3 separate regions of the Homo sapiens genome follow, and all the other regions are reported to be linked to region 1. Evidence: microRNA targets listed by miRTarBase, many of them from high-throughput screens and not tested one by one. Region 1 holds a microRNA gene; each other region holds the end of a gene's coding sequence.
What was found. The annotated mature microRNA hsa-miR-591 reads AGACCAUGGGUUCUCAUUGU and lies in region 1 at 2,195-2,214, shown strand. An mRNA with a match to its seed (bases 2 to 7 or 8) in the 3' UTR can be bound and repressed. Matches are read on the target gene's strand: a 7mer-m8 pairs with bases 2 to 8, a 7mer-A1 pairs with bases 2 to 7 and ends in A, and an 8mer does both.

Region 2: the mRNA of GALNT8 is a reported target of hsa-miR-591. The part of its 3' UTR that is shown has no 7-base or 8-base seed match.
Region 3: miRTarBase lists NDUFA6 as a target of hsa-miR-591. Seed matches in the 3' UTR shown: 7mer-A1 at 757-763.

The regions. Positions count from the first base shown.
Region 1 is chr7:96,218,678-96,221,935 of GRCh38, reverse strand. MIR591 (microRNA 591) reads left to right here and starts at 2,180; the gene lies at 2,180-2,274. All of the region lies in intron 4 of SLC25A13 (solute carrier family 25 member 13), which reads left to right.
Region 2 is chr12:4,772,128-4,775,385 of GRCh38, reverse strand. GALNT8 (polypeptide N-acetylgalactosaminyltransferase 8) reads right to left here. Exons shown (of 11, transcript NM_017417.2): 11 at 2,660-2,941. The coding sequence ends at 2,789. Among named protein-coding and RNA genes, the nearest start is that of KCNA6, 36 kb to the left of the region's middle.
Region 3 is chr22:42,083,619-42,086,876 of GRCh38, reverse strand. It overlaps NDUFA6 (NADH:ubiquinone oxidoreductase subunit A6), which reads left to right. Exons shown (of 3, transcript NM_002490.6): 3 at 563-1,351. The coding sequence ends at 694. It overlaps SMDT1 (single-pass membrane protein with aspartate rich tail 1), which reads right to left. Exons shown (of 3, transcript NM_033318.5): 3 at 2,593-3,258. Among named protein-coding and RNA genes, the nearest start is that of NDUFA6, 5.5 kb to the left of the region's middle.

The DNA.
Region 1 (3,258 bases):
CTTAATTCTAAGCGAGTCCTCAGTTAGTTAATTCTCTGATGTGGATGTAATTGTTTGGAGGGACCCTTTCTGAGTTCAACTTAGATTGTGTCCAGGAACACCTGCTATGATGAAATTGGTGTGCTTTGGGAAAATGGGTAGGCTAGATGACATTAGGAAATGTGTGGAAACACCCACTCAGTCACTTCGATTCAGGTTGCAGAAAATGATGGGAGTTAAAAGTATGGAAATGAGAAGTTTCGAAGTTAAGCACTCAAATTTAATATTAAATATATAAAGCTAGAGGAATGCTGGTATTGGATTGGAAGAAGGCAGACTTTACCCATCATTTTTAAGCTTGCTGGAAAGGAAGGTCATTTGTTACTGTCTTTGTAAAGACACTTCGAAAATGAAATATTCGAAAAGATAGCTGAGGGAGAAGGTGGTGAAGAATCAGAAGAAACGTTACTTGGGGAAAGTTCTTCATTAATATTGGTTCTGATTTTGGTGTTTCACAAAAATAATGTGTCATTTTGATGAAAGAAAAATATTGCCCTGCAGTAGATTTGATTTTATTTTATGAGAGGTAAAGAGGGGGCTGAGTATATTCTCTTATACATGCTTACATCCCAAATAGAGAGTAAGAATTTCGAATAAGAACAGTATGAGTTTTGAAAGTAAATAGTCTCTATGTTGATAAGAATTGTGGCATGCCTGGGTACTGAGTATCTTTTCAGAGATCCTAGAGACTGTCCAGAAACTGTTCCAGTTCATTGGGTCAAAAATCCACTATTTACGAAAAGCTAAATACGGATTTGCACGATTGACCATAATGGCTTCAATTTTGAAAGATAGTAGTATCAGAGAGCACTTCCAGTTGGTGGGATAATTTAAGAATCGCCCGTGCTCAAATGGCTAAAATATTGTACTTTTTGCTACTTCATCACTCCATTTTAAAAATAGAGAGGGGGAGAAAAGAAGGCAGACCTGTTGAGAAGGTGGAAGAATGTCAGTTGGAGAGCAAATCAAAATAACCATGTGAAGCCACTCCTTAGTTAACTACTGCCTGAAGGTTAACTGTTCCTTAGAAGCCTGTCAGGGAGTGGAGAGACTGGACTGGGGGCTGCTGTCCCTGTGTGTGCATGTGCACCTGTGTGTTTGTGTGTGCATGTGTGTGTGTGTATGTGCATGTTCATGTGCATGCATGATGAAGGGTGAAGAGAACTTGTGAGTAGGAAAGAAGGTGTAGAGAACAGAAAGCTAACATAAAATCCTGAAACTTAGAGTCCTAGGAAAATTTGACTATTTTAAACTAACTGTACTGCTTATTTAAAGATAGGAAAATTATACCATTCTTCTTCTGGTATAAGAGAGAGATAAAAATACAGTTTTTCTAAATTGGAAAATTTGCTGTAATCTTGCTGCTAATGACTGATTTCTTCCAACAGTTGCAAGGCAGTTTTTGCTCTGATAGGTTGATAAAGGAAACAAAATCAAGAACATATTGGAAATTCTCAGAGAAAATTACAGTTTAGGTATATGTTGGGGGTGGATACTTAGACATTTTAATTGAAATAAAACAGTTTTATACTAATATGGGATCACTGTGGGTGTACATTTGTAGTACATCTGCTCTTGAAGCATTTAAGTAGGGTTAAATGTATGTTAATGCTTTTGCAAGAAAATTTTCGATAATATCCGTCTAAGGAAACTAGCTTAGGAAATAGGTTTTTGAAAACAATATAGATATTATATTTGCATTTAGAGAGTGAATTAGGACTCTGTAATGCTTTAAGAATTTTAAAACATTAGTTGTATTCTCTAGTGGTAATGAAAGTTAACAATAATTAACACACAGCAGATGATTAAAGCAAGCTTACACATCTGGAGAGTGGCCACAGTCTGCTATATGCCTCTAAACACCATTTTAATTGACCTACTTTTGATATTATGAAAGGCTAATAATGATTTATTCTACCCAGTTGAAAATACTTTTTCTAGCAGATAATTGGAAACATCTCAGTTGGCCCCTCTGTTGATTTAGTTAGTGTGTGTGACAGATGGTTAATATCTTACGCTAAATATCTGCCAGCCTTGAGCCATTTTGTTGTTGTTGTTGACTCACAGTCACTATGATGACTTAAATAGTGTATGAATCTTGAGAATTGATAGATCTGTCAGATTATAGAGGAGGAGGGAGTCTTATCAATGAGGTAGACCATGGGTTCTCATTGTAATAGTGTAGAATGTTGGTTAACTGTGGACTCCCTGGCTCTGTCTCAAATCTACTGATTCATAATTTTTGGGTGTGGGGCTTGGGAATGTGTTTTAAACAAGCTCTCCAAGGGAATGTAGTTCCTACTTCAAATGAACAATGGCTGAGTATAGTTTATGGCTTTCTTTCATGGATGAGGAAACAGGCCCAGAGGGGAAAAGGTGACTAGTTTCATAAGAATCACAACTTTGACTTCTGGCACTAGAAGGATAGGGTTCTTTCCTGAATGCCACATGACCTTAACTCAGGCTAGTTCCATCCCTAAGTACAGAACTGGAAGAGTTTTAAATTAGCCCTAATTTTTACATACACCAATACCACATATGACTTTAGTATAATATTTGGCTCAGCTTGGCTGTGTGTGTGCTTATTTTTTGAAAGATACCTATCACCACTGTACCTACATGTTCAGAATAATAATAATAAAAAGTTTACAGGGGATTATAGAGAACTCAATTTTAATGTGAAGTACTTATGCTCTACTTACTATGTTTTAATGGCAACCATTTTCCCCCTAGAAGTTTCTTGAGCGACTCTGAATTGTAGCCAGAATACGTCTTTCCTCTTCAGACCCTTAGCTGTGATTAATGTAAAAAGGCACTTGTCAAAAGGGTTTGAAATGGCAACCTTGATATTGGAGCATATGGCAGTAGAGATAGGTCTGCATCCACTTACTCCATTATGTTATTTAATGTACGAATTCAACAATTTGTCTTTTGCTCCCTGCTTAAAAGATGATGGCCGTAGAAGCTGGTTGTTAACCATATCAGCAGGGTGGAATATTACTTCCCTTAGAGAAAAACCACAACTTTCTTTGAGGATTTAGCATGCATTAGAAAAAGCATGAAACTGTTCAGAGATAAAATGCTGGGCCTTCAGCAGTCCTCTCTTTGCCTCCAAGAGGGGTTACTTTTATGTTTAACACAAACATCCCTTTTGTGTTTATTGTATTAATGGAATTTTTAAAATCCATGAGAAAGAGAGAGAGATTATGGTTTAGTGTT
Region 2 (3,258 bases), not on the chromosome of region 1:
GTCCCCTTAAATCTGGAACACTTCCTCAGTCTTGTCTTCCATGAGTTGATATTTTTGAAGCATACAGACCATTTCTTTTGAAGAATGTCCCTCAATTTGGGTTTGATTGATGTCTCCTCAAGATTATAGGTTCAGGTTCTGTATTTTGGCAGGAAAACCATAGAAGTGATATTGTGTTCTTCTTGCATTATATCAGGAGGCCCATGATATCCGTTTGTCCGACAACTGATGATGTTAACGCCAATCACTCAATTAAAATTACCGTTATTTATTTTAATACTCAAATTGTCCCAGATTTGGCCAGTGGAAGCCCCTTCAACCTGACCATTGTGGTTTGTGACAGGTCCCCATAATTTTCTGAGCAGTTTATAACTTTCTAAAATAGAAAGATATCCCAGCCCCAGCCCTAAAATTAGCTATTTCTCCAAAGGCTTGTAATTCCTTTCACTGGAAAATATTTAGAAACAAGATCTGCGTGCTGCATGTTAGGTGTGATCAATGTGTGTGTGCATGAGTGAGTGTGTATGTGTTCATTTACAATATGGAAATATAGTTAGGTTCACTTATTTTTGTTTATACTCCATTTTGGGTTTCTATCTTTATTGATTTTATAGATTTATATTTTAAGCATTTGAAACATAACACGGTTCTAGAAGTCAAAACTATAGAAAATATAGTTAGAGAAATGTCACTCTCCCCACATCCCTTCTATCCCGTTCCTATTCCCAATTATTTCTGCCCTATTTCCAACCACCACCACCTATTGTAACCAATCTCATTATTTTCTTATTTATTCTTCTTATGTTTTACTTTGCAGAAATGAACAGATGCAGGTATATTTTTCTCTTATTTCTTACCTAAAAGGTACATAGTATAGATACTATTTTTCTTTTCCCGCTTAACAAAAGATACTGGAAATCACCCCATATCAGTTCAGAGAAAGAGTCTTTGTTCTTTATCATAGCTGCATAGTACTCCATTATATGGAGGTATTCAATTATTCTCTGATGTTCAGCCACATCTTTTTTTTTTTCAACATTTCTCAGTTACAATGAATACTGCAAAGAGTCACTTTGTGCTAAGTATTTTCTTATTTTTAAGGTAAATCTCTAGAGGTGGAATTACTGGCACAAATAGAAAATGTACATACAGTTTCTTTAGATATTGCTAAATATCCCCAGTTTGCCTTATGTATAAGATTGCCTGTTTCTCACAGCCCTTCCAAAAGAATGTGCTGTCTTACTTTTTAATTTTTACCAATTTAAGTGAAAAGTATCTCAATACAGTTTTAATTTGCATTTCTCTAACTACGAATGAGGTTAAACATCTTTTCATATGTTTAAGTATTGTGTCTTTTATCCAACTTTCTATTGGGTACATGCTTTTTCGAAACTTTGCTGTGAACTGCATTTTCCCTTCAATTTGCCAGGCAGAAGCTAGAAGTTATACATTTGCTTAACATTCATCTTGTCCCTTGATTTTTTCATAATAAAATCGTATCTGCAGTAGTTTTAGTTCTTGATATGGCAGTGTTCATAGTGAAATTTTAATCAAGCTATCTATAACCTGTACACTTTTAAAAGTTCATTTTTATAAGTTTTAATTGATTAAATTCTGTACCAAATTATCACTGTCCTGCTTGCCTAAGGCCTGAAGAAAACCTAATGATTCCCCAAATCATTTCCAGGCAGCCCTGACACGGGACTAAGAGAGAAAAGTGGCCCTCTGAAGAAGGGGTTCTGGGAGCACATGCTTGAAGGGTAATCCCACAACACACCACACGCACAGGACCATCCTACCTCCTCTCCCACCATGGTGCCTGGTCCCACCAGCCTCCAAGACCTTGCCAAAAATTGGCAGGCTGAGCTATATCTTCCCAACTCACCAACTAGCAGAAAATATTTATCCAGTGGGCAGCCGTAGAATCCCTGGTTTTAAGATTTTGCCTGCAATCTCTTCTTTGCCCACAACAAGCGATGCCCCTCTGATTCAAGCCTCATCTTCTCCATAATTTGCAAGAGTAGGAGGAGGGAATAGGTAATTAAGTCATTAAATGTTATGACCTACTAAGAGAAAGGCTTTGATGGCCCTGGATTTTCTTACCCTTCTCAACACACTGTCCCCTGGACAGCTGTGATGAGTCGAGGTGCCTTCTCTCCTCCCCTCAGCCTCCAGAATCTCTTTGGTGTGGGAGAGACTGATCATCCAAATAAAACTGCCATGGAAGGATGAATGGAGGAATGTTTAAAAGTCACTTATCTATTTTCTGCATCTCTCAGGACAGTCCAGGCAGGAGGGAGAATTAGTGCTACCTGAAGAGGTGTCATGCTGCCGGCCTGAGGAGGGCCCAGCCTCTCACGTGGAATGGCCCCCGGCAGCCTGGGGAGTCCCCAAGCAGATGAGCTGGGGAGGAGGTGTGGGGCAGATGGCGACAGTAGCTGTCGGGAAGGAAGGCTAAACATCGTGGGCAGAAGTCAAAGATAAACTTCCAACCTCCTCCTTCTCTCCCCACGTAACAGCCAAAAGATGCTGGTTATTTCAAGGAGTTTCCAAGAATGGCATTTGATATATATCACGACCTTCCCAGGGAAGCTGGGGACGAGGCATCAGAGCTTCCTCTCCTCTCTCCAACAGAGACACCCCGGCACACGCACAGGCCCCACCTGAAGTCGCCATAAACAGACATACACATGCTTTCTTTCTCATTGAGAAAGAAGCTGGGAGTGTTAGGAGTAGAAGCCATTCCACTTGCAAGAATTGATGACCCAGATCCAGCACCATCTGAGGATCACTGGCTGTTGGTCTGACCCCAGTCTCTGACAGTGTGCTGGATTTCCCACACTTGCGTGCTACAGGTCTGGAGCACAAGCACGTGGCTACCCAAAAGATCCTTCTTCATCTCCAGACACCGCTTGGTATCTCTGTTTATGACAGCTCCTCCCTGGAGGGGAAGAGAGACAGAGCCAAGGTGCTGAAATGCCTCAGTAATTCATCATCTCTTCTAGCCCTGCTCTCCCTGCTGTGCTCAGCCACATTCTTGAGGGACCCCTCAGTGCTCCACAAGTCATCCAGGGAAGAAAGGGAAGCAGAATGTAGGATGAGATCACCCCGTGCTTCCTCTACCAGCCCCATGGCAAACTGACTAACCAGGCGATGTTGCGCTGGCTTCGTGTGATGCCCTCAGCCTCTCCTGAGATGGAAGCATTGGGTCAGTACTGACTACCATGGAACGAAGGCATCTGTGAGAACCGTGGGCCT
Region 3 (3,258 bases), not on the chromosome of region 1:
ATCAAGGGAACATCCACTGGGACTTGCATTTTATAACCATAAAAAAAGATATAGGGAGGAAAGTTTGAACTCTTCTTGAACCTCATCCCTAGAAGTTACCACTTCATCTGAATGCCAGTTTACAGCTGGAAGAGGCAGTTAGGGTGGTTATGAGTCCTGTATAAATGGACTCAAATCCTGGGGCTGATTCTGTCCCCCTGGCCAGTCACGTTAGCATCAATGGGAGCTTCAGCATAGACCAGTCAGTAACAGAAGAAATGATAAGCAGAAACATAAGTTAAGCCAGTCAGGTTAGGTAGTCATGGGATAGGAGCCTGTTAACCTGTATGTTTCTCCTCTTGGTACCAGTTAACCACAGAGTTAAAGAATCTGAAAAGTGTCAGAAATGATTTACCCTGACCACCTCATTGTCCAGACATAGAAACTTTGCCCAGACAGAGTAGTTACTTGCCCAAGGTCATTCAACAAGTCCATGCTGAGCAGAGAATAGAATCCTGGCCTTCAGTGTCATATGCCTTCAACTTGACAACTTTGACTGATGACCTCTCTCCTCACTGTTCAGGGAAAGATCGAACTGGAAGAAACAATTAAAGTATGGAAGCAGCGGACACATGTTATGCGGTTCTTCCATGAAACAGAAGCGCCAAGGCCAAAGGATTTCCTATCCAAGTTCTATGTTGGCCACGATCCATGAAGTCATTCAGTGGAAAGATGCACGTTGATACTATTTTAGAGCACAAATAAACTCACTATACAATGGTCACTTTGTGATAGAATTCCATTGATGAACCAATTTTCTGCAGCCTCTTTTTGCCTGAGCAAGTGGGACCTTGGTATACACATCACCTGTTCTTTCCCTTTTCTTGAAATGTGGTGTTTGCTGTAAATTGGATTGAATTATTTTTCTCAGAGCCTTGCATGTCAGTAAACAGGAAGGAAGGAGGCCATCTGTTCAAAAATTGTGACATTGGGCATGAGGCTGGACGACTTGTTAATGTAGTTGTTTCTATAGCCCCTATGATTAGACACTTCAGTGTCAGGGCACAGATTATCTAAAATTAGCCAGCTCTTCCTGTCAGGGATCAGGGCAGCACTAACAGGCGCAAAAGTAGAGCTGTCAAGATGGGCTAGTTTTCCTTGGGTTCTGAAGAAAATGGATGTGCAAAGGCTTGGCTCCGCTACTTGTAACAAGCTCCAGCCCTTAAAATGAAATTAACTTCCTACTCAGGCACCCTGCTTAGGTGCACAGCTGTTCAATATACACAGAGAACAGAAATATTCCTACTGTCTTTGGAAACCCTGGTGTACCTCTCAGTGGCAGAATAAACATCAACACAGGTTCAAGAACTGATCTCTGTTTGGATGGTGGTCTTCTCTTGTGCTTCCCAGGGCAATCCAAATGATGGAGAAGGGGTTTGGAATCTATAGGTATGATCACTGAGGACTCCCATACTTTTTTTTTTTTTTTAAATAGAGATGGCGTCTCTCCATTGCCCAGGCTGGTCTTTTTTTCTTTTCTTTTTTTTGAGATGGAGTCTCGCTGTTGTTGCCCAGGCTGGAGTGCACTGGTGTGATCTTGGCTCACTGCACCTTCCACCTCCTGGTTCAAGTAATTCTCCCTGCCTCAGCCTCCCAAGTAGCTGGGATTACAGGCATGGACCACCACATCCAGCTAGTTTTATATTTTTAGAAAAGACGGAGTTTCACCATGTTGGCCAGGCTGGTCTCAAACTCTTGACCTCAAGTAATCCACCCGCCGTGGCCTCCCAAAGTGCTGGCGTGAGCCACCGCGCCCAGGCCAGTCTTGAACTCCTGGGCTCAAGTGATCCTCCTGCCTCCGCCTCCCAAAGTGTTGGGACTACAGGCATCAGCCATTGTGCATGGCCCCAAACCTTATGGCACCAAGGATCCCTTTATAATCTTTTCACGTAAGGAACCTGAGGGAAAAACTCAAGGTGTTTTTGTGTTCTCTCACTCAATAACAATAAACACATAAGACTTCTGTGATCAAACGTTATGAGGGTTTCTCCCCACACTAAGCAAGCAGTCAGTTCTGCAGCAGACACCAGCTGCCTGTCCTCCAATTCTCTTCGAACACTATCTACCTGGAGATAGCAACAGATTCCACAGGTTTGGGGCTCAGTCCCACAAGACTGCTCCCACCCCCATTAGACAACATTCACAAGTCCAAGCCTCCAGAACTTCTGAGCTTCAAGTTCCCATGACCCCTTCTTTTTTTTTTTTTTTTTTTGAGATGGAGTCTCACTCTGTCGCCCAGGCTGGAGTGCAGTGGTGCCATCTCGGCTCACTGCAAGCTCTGCCTCGCGGGTTCACGCCATTCTTCTCCTGCCTCAGCCTCCCGAGTAGCTGGGACTACAGGTGCCCGCCACCACACCCGGCTAATTTCTTCTATTTTTTAATAGAGACAGAGTTTCACTGTGTTAGCCAGGATGGTCTCGCTCTCCTGACCTTGTGATCTGCCCGCCTTGGCCTCCCAAAGTGCTGGGGTTACAGGTGTGAGCCACCGCACCTGGCTGACCCCTTCTTTTTAATTTGCTGGAGCAGCTTGCAGAACTCAGAGGAACACTTAGGTCCGTTTACTGGTTTATTATAAAGGATATCACAAAAGATACAGCTGAAGAGATGCATAGGGTGAGGTATAGAAGGGGCGTGGAGCTTCCAAGTTCTCTCCAGGCGTGCCACTTTGCAAAGCCAAGTGTTCTGTTCTCCGAAAGCTCTCTAAACCTGTCTTCTTGGGCCTTTTATGGAGACCTCATTGGATAGGGATGATTGAAGCATGGACAACACTGGAGAAATGGGATTGGACAAAAGAGGCATAATCTAATACAGATGGAGTGGGGAAGTCCAACAAGGCCTGTCTACATTTCTTCCTCTCAGGTATGGGGCAGAATCCCTTCTGAAATGGGGGTCTCATGACCTAAAATCAGACAAGGTAGGTCAGAGGATTCTTTTTATGGCCAACTGGAAGACGGGCAAAGGAAGATTATACTTTTAGTTTCTATGGCCTGCCTTGGGGAGAAAAAGCAGCAGGTGAAAGGAGGTCAGGAGAAGATCTGAGAAACAGCCTGCTGTTTTCTGAGGCCCGAAGTGCCCAACATTATAACAAAAGCCTAAAACAAGGGTTTTGGGAGTTATAAGCCAGGAAATAGATGAAAACCTATCTATATCCTCATATCACAGAACCCGAGTTTTGAATCATTCTAGTTATATTTAAGTAGTATGCTAACAAGCAGAGCT